Regions from separate parts of the Homo sapiens genome. Here region 1 is linked to region 2. Evidence: fine-mapped expression QTL. A gene starts in region 2. The other region holds a variant in brackets. All regions are shown on one strand. Distances are between the middles of the regions.

Evidence for each region.
Region 1: its variant is fine-mapped to the expression of WDR17 in nasal epithelium (TOPMed, PIP above 0.99). The same link has a PIP of 0.9 or more in aorta, coronary artery and tibial artery.

The regions. Positions count from the first base shown.
Region 1 is chr4:176,126,415-176,134,764 of GRCh38, reverse strand. It overlaps WDR17 (WD repeat domain 17), which reads right to left. Exons shown (of 29, transcript NM_181265.4): 6 at 5,905-6,027; 7 at 3,027-3,211. Among named protein-coding and RNA genes, the nearest start is that of WDR17, 65 kb to the right of the region's middle. The variant A/G (reference allele first, on the strand shown) is at 3,941.
Region 2 is chr4:176,061,047-176,069,396 of GRCh38, reverse strand. WDR17 (WD repeat domain 17) reads right to left here and starts at 3,556. Exons shown (of 29, transcript NM_181265.4): 1 at 3,318-3,556. RefSeq lists a silencer at 3,301-3,680.

The DNA.
Region 1 (8,350 bases), 65 kb before region 2:
ATAAAGCAATTAACTCTTAATAGTTACCATATGTCATCTGGCACTACAATAGAAGACCAAGATGAAACTCAAACTAAAAGTCATTTAATGCAAATATTCCTTTTTTATACTAATAACGTACTCCAAAAGCACCTCATAATTTTGGCAGAAACAGAAGAATCAGGCATAACCCCAATTGTTAATGAGCCTTGTTCCAAAATTTTCTAGCAAGTCTATTCTTTGGAACCTGAATACTTGTTCCCATTACACAATGATTTGGATCCCAAACACCCACAAGACTATAAAGTGGTATATGCAGATACATGTAAACATACACCAGTAAAGTAGTGCTTAACTACTGTGGGCCTTTGGGAAAATCCGTTAAGAGTCCAACATAAATAGCCGGAATTACAACTATTCTAAATGCTGGGGAATGGGAATCGAAATTTCTACTTTAAGCAAACGAAACTAACATTTGGGATCTAGAGACGGAGTTGAAGTACAAAGACAGGGTTTTCTAGTCCTCAACAAATAGAATAAGGGTAGAGAAGAAAGTCCTTAAAACTCTGTGTACTTCCATTAATACCAGAAATCACAACCCTTAGGAAACTACAAAAGTACTCGTAAAGTTTCTCCTTTAGGTGGAGGTAAAGGAAAGAAAAATCTCAAGGGTTAGCAAGAAGTAAAAATGTTGTTAGAACCACTGGTTCACCTGGCTGAAGCTGTCCTATGTGGTCATTTCCAATGTTAGGAACATAATCCAGGCAGGGACTTACATGCAGTTTTAAATGTTATTTCACTGCTATGCCTTAAAATTTTATTTTTTGAAATAAGAAAATTCACATAGCAAGAACAAAATTGTAAATGTTTCTTCTGTGTTTTCTTCTTACCAAAAGGAAGGTGAGTAAGACGAGGAAAATTTTGTGGCATTTTTCTTAATTTTAATGGAGCAAATATTCATATGGAAGTACACCTTTTAGAATGTTTATTAATAAGATTTTTAAAATTATGTAAGATTTTAAAAAATATTAATAATATTTTTCTCATCCTATGTAATCTGGAATCTTTGCAGATGCTTCATACATACAGCAGTTCAGAGTTGTTTCTTCTGGTAACACTTCGAGAAATTTCAAATTTGGATCTGTGTTAAGAAAATTGAAACTATAAGGAAAAAATGACTGCCTCCCTCTGACTGGCAGACATTTTAAAGTGAGAAAAGCAACTGAAATAATTTATAATCAAGCGGCTTTTAGTATTTAGTATTCGGCATTTATTAGAATTATAAATTAACATAGATTTTAAGTAAAACATACTTTAATACGAAGTGTCATAGAAAATTTATTGAATTTAGATTGCATGACTTCTCTTCTACTAACACAACTTTTTTTTTTTTTTTTTTTTTTTTTTAGCTTAGTAGAAAGACCCAGATTTTTATTTAAGGCAGAATTTACTTTTTAGATTAGGAGTTAATGGTGGAAGTGATTTTCCTTTCTCTTTTCTTCTTCTTCTTCTTTTTTTTTTTTTTTTAGAGAGAGGAGACCAAGGAGAACCACAGAGGACTTTGCTTGTAATTAAATAGTGAAGTGGTAAAAAAAAAAAAATAAAAATAAAAAATTGTTTTTTTTTTCTTCGAATGGTATATATGGCACTTGGGGCATGTGTGATTCATGTTAGTATATTTTTTCTTTTTTCTTTTGAGTTGCTGCAATGTAATTGTCTCCTGAACTGATTTTAGGAATTGGTGAGCTAAGCACAGTTTTATTCAGAAATGAAGAATTGTCTTGTTGAAGACCCACTGCCAGATTTAGTGACTCAACCCAGTGCTGATGTAAAGCAACTCAGGACATATCAGCAAAATTCTACAGAAGTCATTCTGGTTGGTCTAGTGAAACAAGTGTAGGAAACAGTATATCCTGCTGTTCTTACTAGTTTTTTTTTATAGATTTAAGTGTATTCTTATGTTTTTCTCCCTTCCCTTTCATAAATTTGTTTGAAAACAAATGGTAATTTGAAGTATACAAAAAGTTTACCACACTAGGAAAGAGTTTATATAAAAAGAAAAGTTAAAGTGAAAAGAAAATTAAATCATCTTCAAATGAATATCTACAAAAGGAAAATTCAAAAATAATTAAGCTACAGATTATTTTAAAAATATTTTTGCTATAAATCATTTTTTCATTTGAGGATAAAATTAAACGAGCAGTCTTGAAAAGATACAATATTATTGATTCTTTCTCTCCCTTCAGTTACAAGGACAATTACATCTCTAGATTCTTTTTCTAAGATCAAAGGAAAATAATTAGCATTTAAAGGTTTCTTAAATGTCCAGATTAGTCTAATTCAAACCAGTGGAAAAAGACAGGGACATTTTTAGAAACTCTAAAGTAGGGAAAATTAAAGAGGATTGTTTTTGACAAATATTAATTACAACGCAGTATGTATTATTGCATGTCTTCATTCATTCATTCAACAAAATTTAATAGTCTTGCTATGTGGCAGATACTATATTAGGTAGTGGGGCTGTACCACAGAACACAACCAGACAAAAATGTGGGATCTCAAGGAGGTTGTATTCTATCTTATATAGGGGCTTAATTATCATAAAAACAGAATTCATAGAATCACTTAAGTATCATAGCGATTCAACAATAGAAACAAATCTTAGAAAACATAATCCAACGTTACTCAATTAACAAATGGGAACAATAAGGCTTTGAGCAACTGGCAGAGATCAACTTGTCCTTTCTCTTGAAAGGACATTCTATTCTCATTTTGCTTCCAAAATATACTACAGCTATGTAATTTTCCATTGTACATAAAATATAAGTAGACATTAAGACTTTTGAAGTATAGTGGTTAAAAGTTATTTTAGTAGTTTTATCATCATTCTATGCATTTTCTAAAATGTTTCAACCAGCTACAATAAATTTCTAGTATATTATTACTTACAAAAATAATTTCAAATAATATTCAGACAGGTAAAAGTAAAGATCATGGGTTTACACAAAAAACTATTATGTATAATAAAGGAATGACTACATACATACCAAGTCTCTAAGAAAATCCCACTTCTTAGCTCCCATATCATAAAGTCCAACTCCACCATCCAAGAAACAACACACTGCATGACCAGGAGGAAGAGAAAATGCTTGATTCTGTGTTAAAGTTGGGGGTGGAACTGCTTCGCTTGTTGAGGATGTATAATGATTTTTGGTTGGAGATTGGACTGAAACTAAAAATAGAAGAAAAAAAATCCTATTGGAATGAAACCACAGAGCTTAATTTAGAAAGATTCTTCATTAAAAAAAAAATCCAGAATCTGTACCAGTAAACCATTTAGGCAATGATCATATATTCTCCCACATAAGCAGTTCTTTGGGATTGCCAAAAAATGTAATATAAGCACAAAATTGGATATTATTTTAAAGTACAGATGGAGCAAATAGATGAAAATTAGTGTGTTGAGGAATCACAATCTGTTGTGAATATGTGGTTTCTTATCACCCTATAAATTAAAGCTCAGCATGATTATTTCTGAATTATAAACTTCCTTCAAAATACTGACATAATAGCTTATTCCCTCCTTCCACACACACAAACATATATGCATATAATTTTTTCTTTTAATATAAATAACTCTCTGCCAACAATTTCCAAGCCAGTGAAAATAATTTTTTTGAGATTATGCATAATTCATTTTAATTTATCATAAATTAAGAATCACAACACTATCTGACCTGCACTGGCATCTCAATTTTCTTTCTTCCTAGATGTTTTTTTGTTTGTTTTTTCTTTTTACTGTTTATAGACTTGGATTTCTCCTACTTTCAATTACATAAATATCACTGTGATTATTTTTATATATTATTTATCCCATATTTTGTCTTCTTCCAAAAAGCTCTTCCTTAGAATGTGAATCCAAATATTTTCTTGCAAACATAATCCAAAATAATGACACTAC[A/G]GTAAATTATAAGACCAATCGATTATTAATTGTACACTGGAATATGGAAAATATTTCTCAGTTTTTTTTTTTTTTTTTTTGAGACGGAGTCTCGCTCTGTTGCCCGGGCTGGAGTGCTGTGGCATGATCTCGGCTCACTGCAAGCTCCGCCTCCCAGGTTGACGCCATTCTCTTGCCTCAGCCTCCCCAGTAGCTGGGACTACAGGCTCCTGCCACCACGCCCGGCTAATTTTTTTGTATTTTTAGTAGAGACAGGGTTTCACTGTGTTAGCCAGGATGGTCTCGATCTCCTGACCTTGTGATCTGCCCGCCTTGGCCTCCCGAAGTGCTGGGATTACAGGCATGAGCCACCGCGCCCGGCCATTTCTCAGTATTTTTAATATTAAAATACAATTTTTCTTAGTTCATTTATTATGGATAATATTCATTTCTCAGAATCTGAGAATTACAGAAAGTCCAAACTAGAATGAACTACAAATGACAAAAGAGGCATTTGGTAGCAATGAATTTGGTTCACTAAATTTCGTTGATATTTTGTTTAAAAATTAATATAATCCATCATTGGTTTTTCTAACACTTTAATTGACATTATAGGTGGGTTAGACAACTTTTATGCACCAATCTATTTGTAAATCATGCTTTTCAGAATTCAGCGAGTACGTTTATTTTTTAAAATTTCATTTTCACAATTGTTCTTTTTCCATACTTTCTGTTATATTAAATTGAAGGGAAAACCTAGAAGTCAAAGAAGAGGTAATCTGAAAGGAATTGCTCGAAAATGACAAGACTGGTATGTTATTCTTTGTATTTTCTGACTTTGTCTAATGGACATGGGCTACTTTTATAGTAAGAAAAAAAATGAAAGAAAAGAATCTGGTATTTCAGACATTCCATGACATGGCAGTTCAAAGCTTCTAAACAAATAAAGGAACTAACAATGACAAAAAAATTCCAACATCCCTAAACAGTAAGCCAGCATCCAGCATATTACTTCTCTAGTCCTAATATTTCTAGACCCTCCAGTTTCCAGGTTCTACATTTATTAGGGACTTCACAATTTTGTACAAGGGGTATAGGTTCAAATATAGAGATTTTCTACTACTTGCCATTGCCTACCAATTAGACACCAAAATAACATTACTTTGAATAGCCATTGCTAATTACTTGGTATATTATAAAGATAGAGTAAGAAGGAAACAATCACTCTAAACTTTTCATCACTGAAATCCCTTCCCCATGCTTTTAATGATGTGTTATACAGAATGGGAACACTACCAACCATGCAGAGTAATCATGATAGACTTAACTGGAAGTCTATTATTTTTCCCTTATATTTGAAAAAAATTCTAATTCTAAACCTCCCCCAAATTTCCAGATTTTTCCTTTTTATAAATTAAGTGTATTTTATTTTTTCTTAATTACAGAGGCAACGAATGATACAGAAAATATACACAGAAATAAAGAAGACACAGAAGATCCATAATACTAACTACTAACTTAGTGACAACTGGTATTCAAATATGTAATATGTATTCTAGATCCTATAATTTGAATATTTAGGTTGTTTTAACTTCGTTGTAAACTGTACAGATTTTAAATGAGCCATGTTTAAAACATAAATTCTCCCAGTTCAGATAATCTTATTTAATCCTATCACTCTTAATATTTCTAACTTATTTTCATCAGTATCATTGATTCATCTTTTCCATGTAGATAATCTGAAATTATCTAAATATTCTTACTTAGTAGCATTAAAAAATGTAACTTGACTCTAAATATTTTCAATTTAGTAACAGTAGATCTTGTGTAGCTTTGATGGATCCTTGAGCACATATATTGTCAAAGCCTTTTTTAAAAATTGCTTTTCAGTGGCATATAGTATTTGATATCTCACTATACCATTTTATTTGATAGAAAACACAATATTTTTTAAAAATTAAAATTTTGATAACATTTTTACTTACACTTTTTTCTTGGAGGAGAATTAAGTACATGTAAGCAGTGAAATCCTGTTTTCTTTAATTTAAGATTATCAATAGGTGTTGTTCTTGAAACATTCCAAATGCGTAAAACACCCACTTGAGAATCTAGTCAGATCAGGGAAAAAGCACATTTTAACAAGTTTTGTATGAAACTAAAATGCCTAGACATAAAAGTATAACAAAATTTCAACTGGAAATATTTTAGGACTAATTACTGACATCCTTTTAACAACAATACCATACAGTAATACAACCTAACAACCGAAATACTATTTAACCTTTAAATTTTTGGCATGTTTTACTATTTTTTTGCTCCAAAACCTTTTATAGGTTTAGAAACGGCCTGTTTTGGCAGCTTCCTCCAATAAAGACCATTATAATAACTCAACCACAAAAAAAGACCCTATTGACATATGCTTGTTCTAGGAAAGGCCAGCCACAGAAAACTCTCCATTTCTAACCTTAAATAATCAATCTTTCCACCTTTGAAATGTTTATAAACTGCTCCACTGTCCACTTTTAGCCATTAAGGATTGTCAAATATACCTGAAGACCAATTACAGTCTCCTTTCTTCCAAAATTCCCATCTTAATTACTGCTATGGAGAAAAGTCTGGCAGTTACACAAACGATTAAATATAGAATTACCATATGACTTAGCAATTCCTCTCCTTGAGAAATACTCAACAGAATTATAAGCAAAGGTCCATACCAAAACCTGTACATACATGTTCATAGCAGCATTATCTATATCAGCAAAAAGGTGGAAACAATGCGTCTGTCTATCAACAGAGGAATGGATAAACAAAACCTGCCATATCCATATAATGACATATTATTCAGCCATAAAAAGGAATGAAGTACTGATACATGCTATAACATGGATGAACCTTGAAAACTCTATGTTAAGTGAAAGAAGCCAGAAACAAAAGGCAACAGACTGAATGGTTCCATTTATATGAAATGTCCAGAAGAAGCAAGTCCACAGAGATAGAAAGTAATTAGCAGTTTATGCTTGCACATGTGTGTATCCGGGACTGTAGGGAGGCAGTAATGGAGAGTAACTGCTGATGAGTACAGGGTTTGTTGGGGGAATAATGATATGTTAATTAGATAGTGGTAATAATTGTAGAGCTTTGTGAATATACTAGAAACCACTGAACTGCATGCTTTAAAAATGGTGAATTTTATATGTGAAGCATATTTCAGTAATAGTAATAAAATACAAAACAATTTCCGTGCCTATTGGGCTGGGCATGATGGCTCATGCCTGTATTCCCAGCACTTTGGGAGGCTGAGGCAGGTGGATCACTTGAGGTTAGGAGTTTGAGACCAGCCTGGCCAACATGGTAAAACACCGTCTCTACTAAAAATAGAAAAATTAGCCAGGTATGGTGGCATGCACCACAGTGCAATCTCAGCTACTCGGGAGGCTGAGGCAGGATAATCACTTGAACCCAGAGGTGGAGGTTGCAGTGAGCCAAGATTGCACCACTGCACTCCAGCCTGGGTGACAGAGCGAGACACTGTCTCAAAAAAAAAAAAAAAATTCCATGCCTATTATTAATTATATCCTGAAAAGTTAAAGGCAATTAAGATATATAAATTAAGAATCCATCTACTTTCATGTGCAGTTGCCCCTTGTTATCCATGGGAGATTGGTTCCAGGACCTCCCACGGATAACAAAATCCAGGAATGCTCAAGTCTCTTACATAAAGTGGCATATTATTTGCATATAACCTATGCATATTTTCTCGTATACTTTAAATCATTTCCAGATTATTGTATTAGTCTGTTCTCACACTGCTATAAAGACATACCCAAGACTGGGTAATTTATAAAGAAAAGAGGTTTAATTGACTCACAGTTCTGCATGGCTGAGGAGGCCTCAGGAAACTTACAATCATGGTGGAAGGCAAAGTAGAAGCAGGCACCTTCTTCACAGGGCAGTGGAATGGAGTGAGGGCAAACAGGAGAAATGCCAGACACTTATAAAACCATCAGATCTCGTGAGATCTCACTCATTATCATGAGAACAGCATAGGGTAAACTGTGGCCCCCATGATCCCATTAGCTCCAGCTGGGTCCGGCCTTGACAGTTGGGGATCATGGCAATGACAATTCAAGATGAGATTTTTGGTGGAGACACGGTCAAGCCACATCACTTATTATACCTAATCCAAAGCCTACACATCACATTATTCACATGGGTTCAACATAGTACTTGTCACACTGCAAAGTCAGGTTTTGCTTCTTGAAATTTTGTGGAATTTTTTTCCCCTAACATTTATCATTCATAGTTGGTTCAATCCACTGATGCAGAACCCACAGATACAGGGTGGCGTCACTATTATGTTAAGTATTAAAGAAGTGAATAATTTATTTTAAAATTTTGAGAGGATAAAGAGTCTTTGCCTATTATTTTACG
Region 2 (8,350 bases):
TTTATATTACTGTCTATTTCTACAGTACATTTTTTAAATTAGAATGTAGAATTACAGAATTTTATAAGACAGCTTACTGAACAATACTTTGTAAGTACATTTAACATAATAAAAAGTAAGACTTTTATCAATATATATATATAAATTATTTTCCTCAAGTAGCTGATAATGTGACATCTGGAAGGCAGGTGCCAGCTGTGGCTCCAATATCAAGTTCTTTTTTTTTCTTACAAAATCTAGCCTATTTGAAATGTTTGACTAGTCACTGAAATTATACCTGTCTAGTCACTGAAATCAGATGAAAACAACCTGAACTCTGCCTTCTAATGTGACAGCCCATGCTTTAAGCATGGAAACTTTTCAAATCTTTCTAATTAATCGTGATGGGAATTTTTCTTTTACTATACAAAGCTGATCATTTTATATTATTTCTACCAATTTTTATTACCAAAGTTGCAAGTCCTTCGTGAACATTTTAAGTAAACTCAAATAAGAAAAATGTTTTTCTCTAGGTTTTGTTTCCTTATAGAGTAGATTCTTTGGGAGAATTTCTAAAATTCTCTTCAGGTATCCGTATCTAATTTCTTGCTCACAAATTTCAAGGAATAGTTTTATCAACAATGAAAGAATAATCACGATACTATTTTAACAGGATAAAGCACAGTCTTGGGTATCAAAAAGTACCAACCAAATCTTAAGTTTCATATGTTTCTGATACAAAAGAAAAGGAGCATGAATTAATAAAAAATCCCTTCCAATATCCTCCTTTTTTTCTTTTTCTTTTCTTTAATTTTTTTGACGTTGTCTTGCTCTGTCGCCCAGGCTGGCATGCAGTGGCGCAATCTTGGCTCACTGCAACCTCCGGGCCTCCTGGGTTCAAGAGATTCTCATGCCTCAGCCTCCCAAGTAGCTGGGATTACAGACGTGCACCACCACGCCCAGCTAATTTTTGTATTATTAGTACACATGGGGTTTCACCATGTTGGCCAGACTGGTCTCAAACTCCTCACCTCAGGTGATCCGCCTGCCTCAGCCTCCCAAAGTGCCGGGATTACAGGTATGAGCCACCGCACGCAGCCTATCCTCATATGATTTCTATAAATTAATATAATTTCGATGAAATCTCTGTTCCTGAAGACGTACTGGAAGATACATGACTTCACTTTAATATTTCCATCTGTTCAATGGAAGAGGTATACAAAATGTAAAATGAGATAATTCAGCAGTGGTCAAAAGTAGCAATGATGCTTCCATATACATAATTATCATGAATAGCTGGGTAAACTCTTAAGTATTCAGTATTACAATTCAGTAATCTGATAAAGCGTTACCTTTCTTGCATATGTTAGATTTCAAAGAAATTCTGGAATATAGGATGAAAATGTGAATCCTTCAAAACTGTCAGAATTACATTTTAGTCGTCATTAAAGTATTTAGGCAACAAAATCAGGTACTCTGGAGAATTTACACATTTCATTAATAGTGACAACCTAATCATTCATGTTGGACTTCTAGTATCCATCAGGGTAAAACCATAAAACAAACAAACAGAAACCTGTTCTTAAACTTCTCCAAGTAATTAAAAAACTGCCACTGGCCCTGTCCCTCCTTTCCCAGACTAAAGGATACAAGATAGAGTCTGTAGAAAACAGCAACAACAAAAGCAATCTAGCCCTAGTCTCCCCTCTACTGGGAGCATTGTTTTTCTGGCCTAAATTAATTTATGGCTTTCTAATCTATGGAATTATTTATGTGACTAATGGGTAACTTAAAAATATTTAGAACACCACTATTTATCATTAGAAATAAGAAGAATAAAGAATGTTAAAACTTTCAAGTAAGCATATTTAACGTCTTCTTCAGATGTCCACAGTTTTTTAAGCAGTTCTATTAATATCAACACAAGAGAAAGTCAGAACAATGTAAACAATAACATTCAACTAGTTATTTTTACATAATTACGTTTGCAGAACTCAAGAGCTTTACTTTCCGTATATGCCCTTTGAAATAAGTCATTGCTTTAAAACTTCCCAGGAACTCTAAAGCTACCATTTGTAACATTAATCTCCAAACAATCCAGTAAAGGATGTTTCCCAAAATATTAACGAATTGACAACTTTTCAAAAGCACTTAATAACTATATTTAATTTTAGATGATAGGAGGGGAAAGGTTCTCAGACCACCTATCTCAGACGTCTGCCTTCAAAACAGTTAGATATAACTATATCCATTTTCTTGAACACTTAGGCCAGTGAGGCAGAATCTCAAAAGGATGTAAGAGTGCTTTCTCCACAGAGTTTGTTTCACCACCCGCCCAGCATCAGCTCCTGGCAAGCAGGGTAATGATAAGGCATAAATCTACAAATAAATTAATGCTTAAACTCTTGTGGAGTTCAAATTTATAAATTCTCATAAATTCATTGTCATTTATTTTCTAATTTTTACAACGCAGAAATGTTATTAGAGTGCTAAGAACGGCAACTATAATCTCACATTGTTGGGCTTTGGCCGTTTCGTATCCTTTTACAACGAACTTGTGTTTTTTTGATAGTTTTCTCTAAAGGGTATTTATGAAAGATTCAGAAATGTAGTATCTCTCTTCAAACCCTTGTTAAATATATATAGTATATATGTATATATTAATATGCAAAATAATTTATTTTTGATGCATGGTCGGACTTTTCATTACTTTTCATTCGAATCAATTGCTTTTAATTAATATATTTAAAAAGTCTCCTTAAATTGTTTGTTCCTTTCAATCTTTGCAAGCAAAACAAGTCTGATTTTGGAGAGGGGAGGACAGCAAAGATTCTATTTTACGATCTACTTAATAAATAGTATACCTGCCTTATATCCAATACCGTCTTTTTTCTGGAACGCATTTCCTTTTTACTCAAACCTTTCTTAGTACAACCCTACTAATAAGTCCATCTTCAAAGGGGTAAATGATCTATACAGAAGTGTCTGGCCGGCGGAGGGATGAGAACAGCAACCTAGGCTCTAGACATATACTTAATAGCCATAAAAATAAAACAATGTCCCTCGAAATGTCCACAGTTTACACTGCAATGGTAGTTTAGATACATAAATATTCGCTGCTTGCTGTGCCTTGTAAGAATCAGGTGTGTGGCTCTAAAACTCAGTTGATTATCTCATCAGGCACCATGGTGTGCAAAGCCCTGCAGGACGTACATTACCCTGGTCCGCGATCACAGGGAGGTCAGAGCCCCTCTCGCATGACGCCGCGACAGTTCCAGCATCACCCACATCAATCCTGAGCTTGCCTTGGTATCTCTGCGGCCCCACCGGCTTCTTACCTGGAGGAGGAGGCGGCTGCAGCGGCGGACAGCGGAAGGTGCTGAAGCCGGCGGGCGCAGCTGCGAGGCGAGCACCACCAACGCGCGGACCCTCCCCGCCCTCCCCGCCTGCTCGCTCAGGGCGCCCGGGGGCGGGGCGGCCGGGCCCGCGGGCTCCGAGGGGCGGGAAGCGTGCTCCGCAAGCCCCAGCGCGGAGCCACGATGGAAGGCGCCGCGAGCCCGATCTCCAGGGTCTGCCCCAGAGGCCCACGTGACAGCTACACAGGTCGCTGATTGGAGCGCCCGAGAGGGGGAGGCGGAAGTGGCTCGTGACCCTTGGAGACTAGGCTGAGGGAGAAGTGGTTACCTGGCAACAGAGAAAGTGTGTTGAAGGCGCAGCTCCTCCGTACTGGAGCGAGGCTTTGGGCAGAGGGTTTGCACTGAGGCTGAAAGTGGAGGAAAACGGTGAACCATCAGCGTTCTCACCACCTAACACATTTTATAGCGAGTCTGCACTTTCTAGGAAAATGAGTCAAATATACAGTAAGTCAGTCATCCTGTCTCTTTCTTGAGGGACCTGGAGGAGGGACTTGAACCAGTGCCTGGAATGTGAGTGCAGAATGCTGTCTCGCCTGCACTTCATTATTGTCTGATTGGGCCCAAGAAGGTCTGTGGGAGAGCTCAATGGATAAGATTATTTGTTTATATTAATCGAGTTGTATGTGGTTAATGTATCTGCCTTCACAAAACTGACATTTTCCCTGTGGGATCTGGTTGAATGGAAGTGCTGGATGTTGTCATTCCTACTGGATTCTTCACATCTCTGAAATATCTTCACTACCTGTGGCCTTTATCCAACACACTAGAGAGAATAAGCCTCGACGTACTCGAAACAAAGTGTATTTAATGACATCTATCGAGAATTAATTATACTCCACTCTAAATAGTTAATAAATGAATGGTCGACCTCAACCAGAGAAAGTCCCTGGGCCTAATTCTTACCTTCCTATGCAGTAGATTTTAATGCTCCTTTTTTCCAAAATATTCTCTGCAGAGACGAGTACCTACCACAGCACTCAATATTCTATATTGTAAATTAAAATTAACTTAAATGTTGGATTTCCATATAAAGAATAAACTTGTTAAAGCTAAAATCAGTTCTTACAACTCCGTCCCCTATATTCTAACAAAGTATCTGATGAATAGCAGGTCTTCAATTAATTCTTGATGGATAGATGGATAAAGAAAGAAAGAAATTAGCACATAATCTACCAGAGAAAGTATAAGGGCAATAACTAAATATAACTCAATGTGTTAAGTACTAAAATAGGGTTACATAAAAGTGCTATGAGATGATTTCAGATGAGGGAGGCAGAACTTTTTCTTCCAAGGTATTCAGAGAAGCTTTCAATATGATTAGTATTTGAGCAGGGACTTATAAATAGGTAGAATTTCACCTGATAAAAAGGGGAAAGTGTATACTATGCAGCAGGAGCAGCATTGCCAAAAGCATAAAGTGGGAAAAAATAAACGATTGATGTAAATAAATTTGATGTTTTTGCCTTCTCCGGAGTTGGGGATGTGAATCCAAAGATAAGAAGGAAGATGGAAATTGGCAAAAGACTGTACTAGAAAAATAAGAAAACTTGATTGGGAAAGATGCAGAATTCTATATATGGGTTAGGCTTTAACCTCTAAACCAAAGGAAGAGATTGAAGTTTATAAAATCAGTGCTTTTTCATCAAGAAAGACACCTTGGAAACATTGGAGATACATGGGATGCAGGAAGATGAAGAACATGGTCTGTTAGGAGAAAAATTCAGTAGTTCATGGGAAAAGATGCTGATGACCTGAGTTAAGACAATGAAAATAAGAATAGCGAAGAGGGAAAATCACAAGAAACATTTCTGTGAAAACAGACTATAGTTTTCATTTATGACTGATATTTGCTAGGTATAGTGCTGAATAGTCAATGGTGTACATGAAGAGAAAATGCTGAAGATACAACGTCTAGCTTAGTCCATCGGTTGGACGGAAAAAATCTTTTATGTTTATTTTGCTCATAATGGCTCCAGCTCTCCAGTTAAGAAACAAAAAACCGGCCGGGCGCGGTGTTTCACTCCCGTAATCCCAGCACTTTGGAAGGCCGAGGTGGGCGGATCACCTGAAGTCAGGAGTTTGACGGCAGCGTGGTGGTGAAACCCCGTTCCTACTAAAATACAAGATGAGCTGGGCGTGGTGGCGGGCACCTGTACTTCCAGGTCCTCGGCAGGCTGAGGCAGGAGAATGGCGTGAACCCAGAAGGCGGAGATTGCGCCACTGCACTTTAGCCTGGGTGACAAGAGTGAGACTCCGTCTCAAAAAAAAAAAAGAAAAAAAAGAAAAAGGAAAAAGAAAGAAACATAAAATTGAATGAGACAACTGAAATTATCTAGTTGTGCACTCATAATTTAAAGATGAAGGTGTTTAAATCTCCAGTCATATTAGCAGCAGATTTTGATAGAGTGATCCCGGTCTCCCAGTTCAGGACTCTTATTCCTTTACCAGAATTTAGTTCATTCCTTTTGAACAGATTTAAATAATCACAACTATAGTTAGATTAGATCTAGAGGAACAATATACCTAATTTATAAAACAAAGATCTCTTTACTCTGATTTTTTATTCTTTTATTCAACCAGTATTTAATGTCATATACTCACCTCACAAAGAAAAAATTGTCAGTCACTTAGGCTGACTGACATTTTCAGGGCAATCATTAGTTCTTAGCACTGAGTACCCGGAGTTCTTCATGATTAAATTTAAAAGCAGAGCGATTAGGGAAGCCAAATGACTCCAGTCAAATTCATCTTCAAGGATAGATAGACATGTTCTATGAGTACAATGGCTTTGAAAAGGAAGTTCAATGCAATTTAATGTGGCAAATGCCCTTTTAATATGTATTCTGGATGAGAAATCAACAAGAAAAAAACTTCTTAAACTAAAATTTTAGAAAAATTTAGCCAAAAAGACTTTAGATTCACCTAATTGAAAAGCCCTCTCACACTTTTTTTTAATGTAAAAATGGTAAGAGAGCAGAAACAAGTATAACAGAAAAAAAAACTTAAACTAATGTGCAGTAAATAGTGAACTAAATACTTAAAAATGTACTTTATGTAAAAACACTTAAAAATTGAAATAGTTTTAAATAGATATATAATCTATTGCCACAATATTGATGATTAAGGTAGATATATTTAAATATATCAAAATATTATTATTTCTATTAAGAAATATATTAGAGGTTATTACTCTTTGGTCTTCTTGAGGTATAAAAATGGCTTAAATTAACCAATAATTTTTGCAGAAAATTGAGATTTTTTCTCTAGATCAATATTGATAGAATTCTTTTATTTTTTTAATAATTGCAGAAAATTTGATATTTTTTCTCTAGATCAATATTGATAGAATTCTTTATTTATTATTATTATTATTATTTTGAGACAGAGTGTCACTCTGTTGCCCAGGCTAGAGTGTAGTGGCATGTTCTTGGCTCATCACAACCTCTGCCTCCAGGGTTCAAGTGATTCTCCTGTCTTAGCCTCCTGAGTAGCTAGGATTACAGGCATGTGCCACCACGTCCAGCTAATTTTTTGTATTTTTAGTAGAGACAGGGTTTCACTATGCTGGCCAGGCTGGTCTCGAAATCCTGACCTCAAGCAATCTGCCCGCCTCAGCCTCTGAAAGTGTTGGGATTACAGGCATGAGCCACTGTGCCCAGAGGATCAATATTGAGAGAATTCTTAAAATTGTTTTTAAATTGTAAAATATTTAAACAGGAAAGTACATACAATAATGCAATAAATATCTATAGTTAATAAATTTTGTTTTTGTCATATTTGCGTTGTCTTTGAAAAAAAAAATTGGCTGGATGTGGTGGCTCACACCTGTAATCCCAGCAATTTGGGAGGCCAAGGTGGGCTGATCACGAGGTCAAGAGATTGAGACCATCCTGGCCAACATGGTGAAACCCCGTCTCTACTAAAAATACAAAAAAATTAGCTGGGCGTGGTGGTGAGCTCCTGTAGTCCCAGCTACTCGGGAAGCTGATGCAGGAGAATCATTTGAACCCGGGAGGTGGAGGTTGCAGGGAGCCGAGATTGTGCCACTGCACTCCACTCTGGGCGACAGAGCAAAACTCTGTCTCAAAAAAAAAAAAAAAAAAAATTATAGGTAGTGAAGTTCTCCTTTTTTCTCTTGTCATTTGATTACTCTCTCATTTTAACCAGATGTAGCTAATCTAACAGATAAATATACTTTCTAAATTTGCTTTATTTTCTGTCATTTATTTTAAAATTTTATAATATTGGTACATATAAGTATATATATTTATATGATATATATCTTATATTAGGAATATAAAATATAGCATCATCATTATTTACCTATTGATGAACATATAAGTGTGTGAACTTTTCTCTATTGCAAAAAGTAGTGAAACTCTTTTCCTGCTCCATATCATCAACATCAGAGTTTTATACTTTTTTCAATCTAATGAATGTATAGTAATATCTCTACATGATTTAAATTTGTGCTTTCTGAAATTGTTGGAATGACACATCTTTTTAAGTTTATAAATTGTTCACTACCTTTTTTTTCTATATTTAACTTTTCCATATTGATTTTTTAGGTTTTAAAATATTCAGGGTGTTTATGTGTTAGATATACCCATTGCAAATATCAGTCCAGATCTTCAGTTGTAAAAATTCTCCATCATTATTTGAATATTTATTCTATTTTTCACTTCTAAAATTTTAATTGAACCTATATGAGAGTTGTTAATTCTACCCATAAATGTATTTATCACTTGTCTTTTCATAGTTTTAATCTCTTTGTCCCTTTGTGCTGAATTCTGTATGACTCTCAGTACCATATTTCAATTTATGAATTTTTTTTCTTCAAATAGTTTCAAAGTGATGATCTTGGCTCCTGCCTAGCCTCATATGAGACATTTAGGTTCCATTTTTCAGCTTAGGCTAATTCTCATCTACTCTTACCTATTTCAGATTTGGGATCC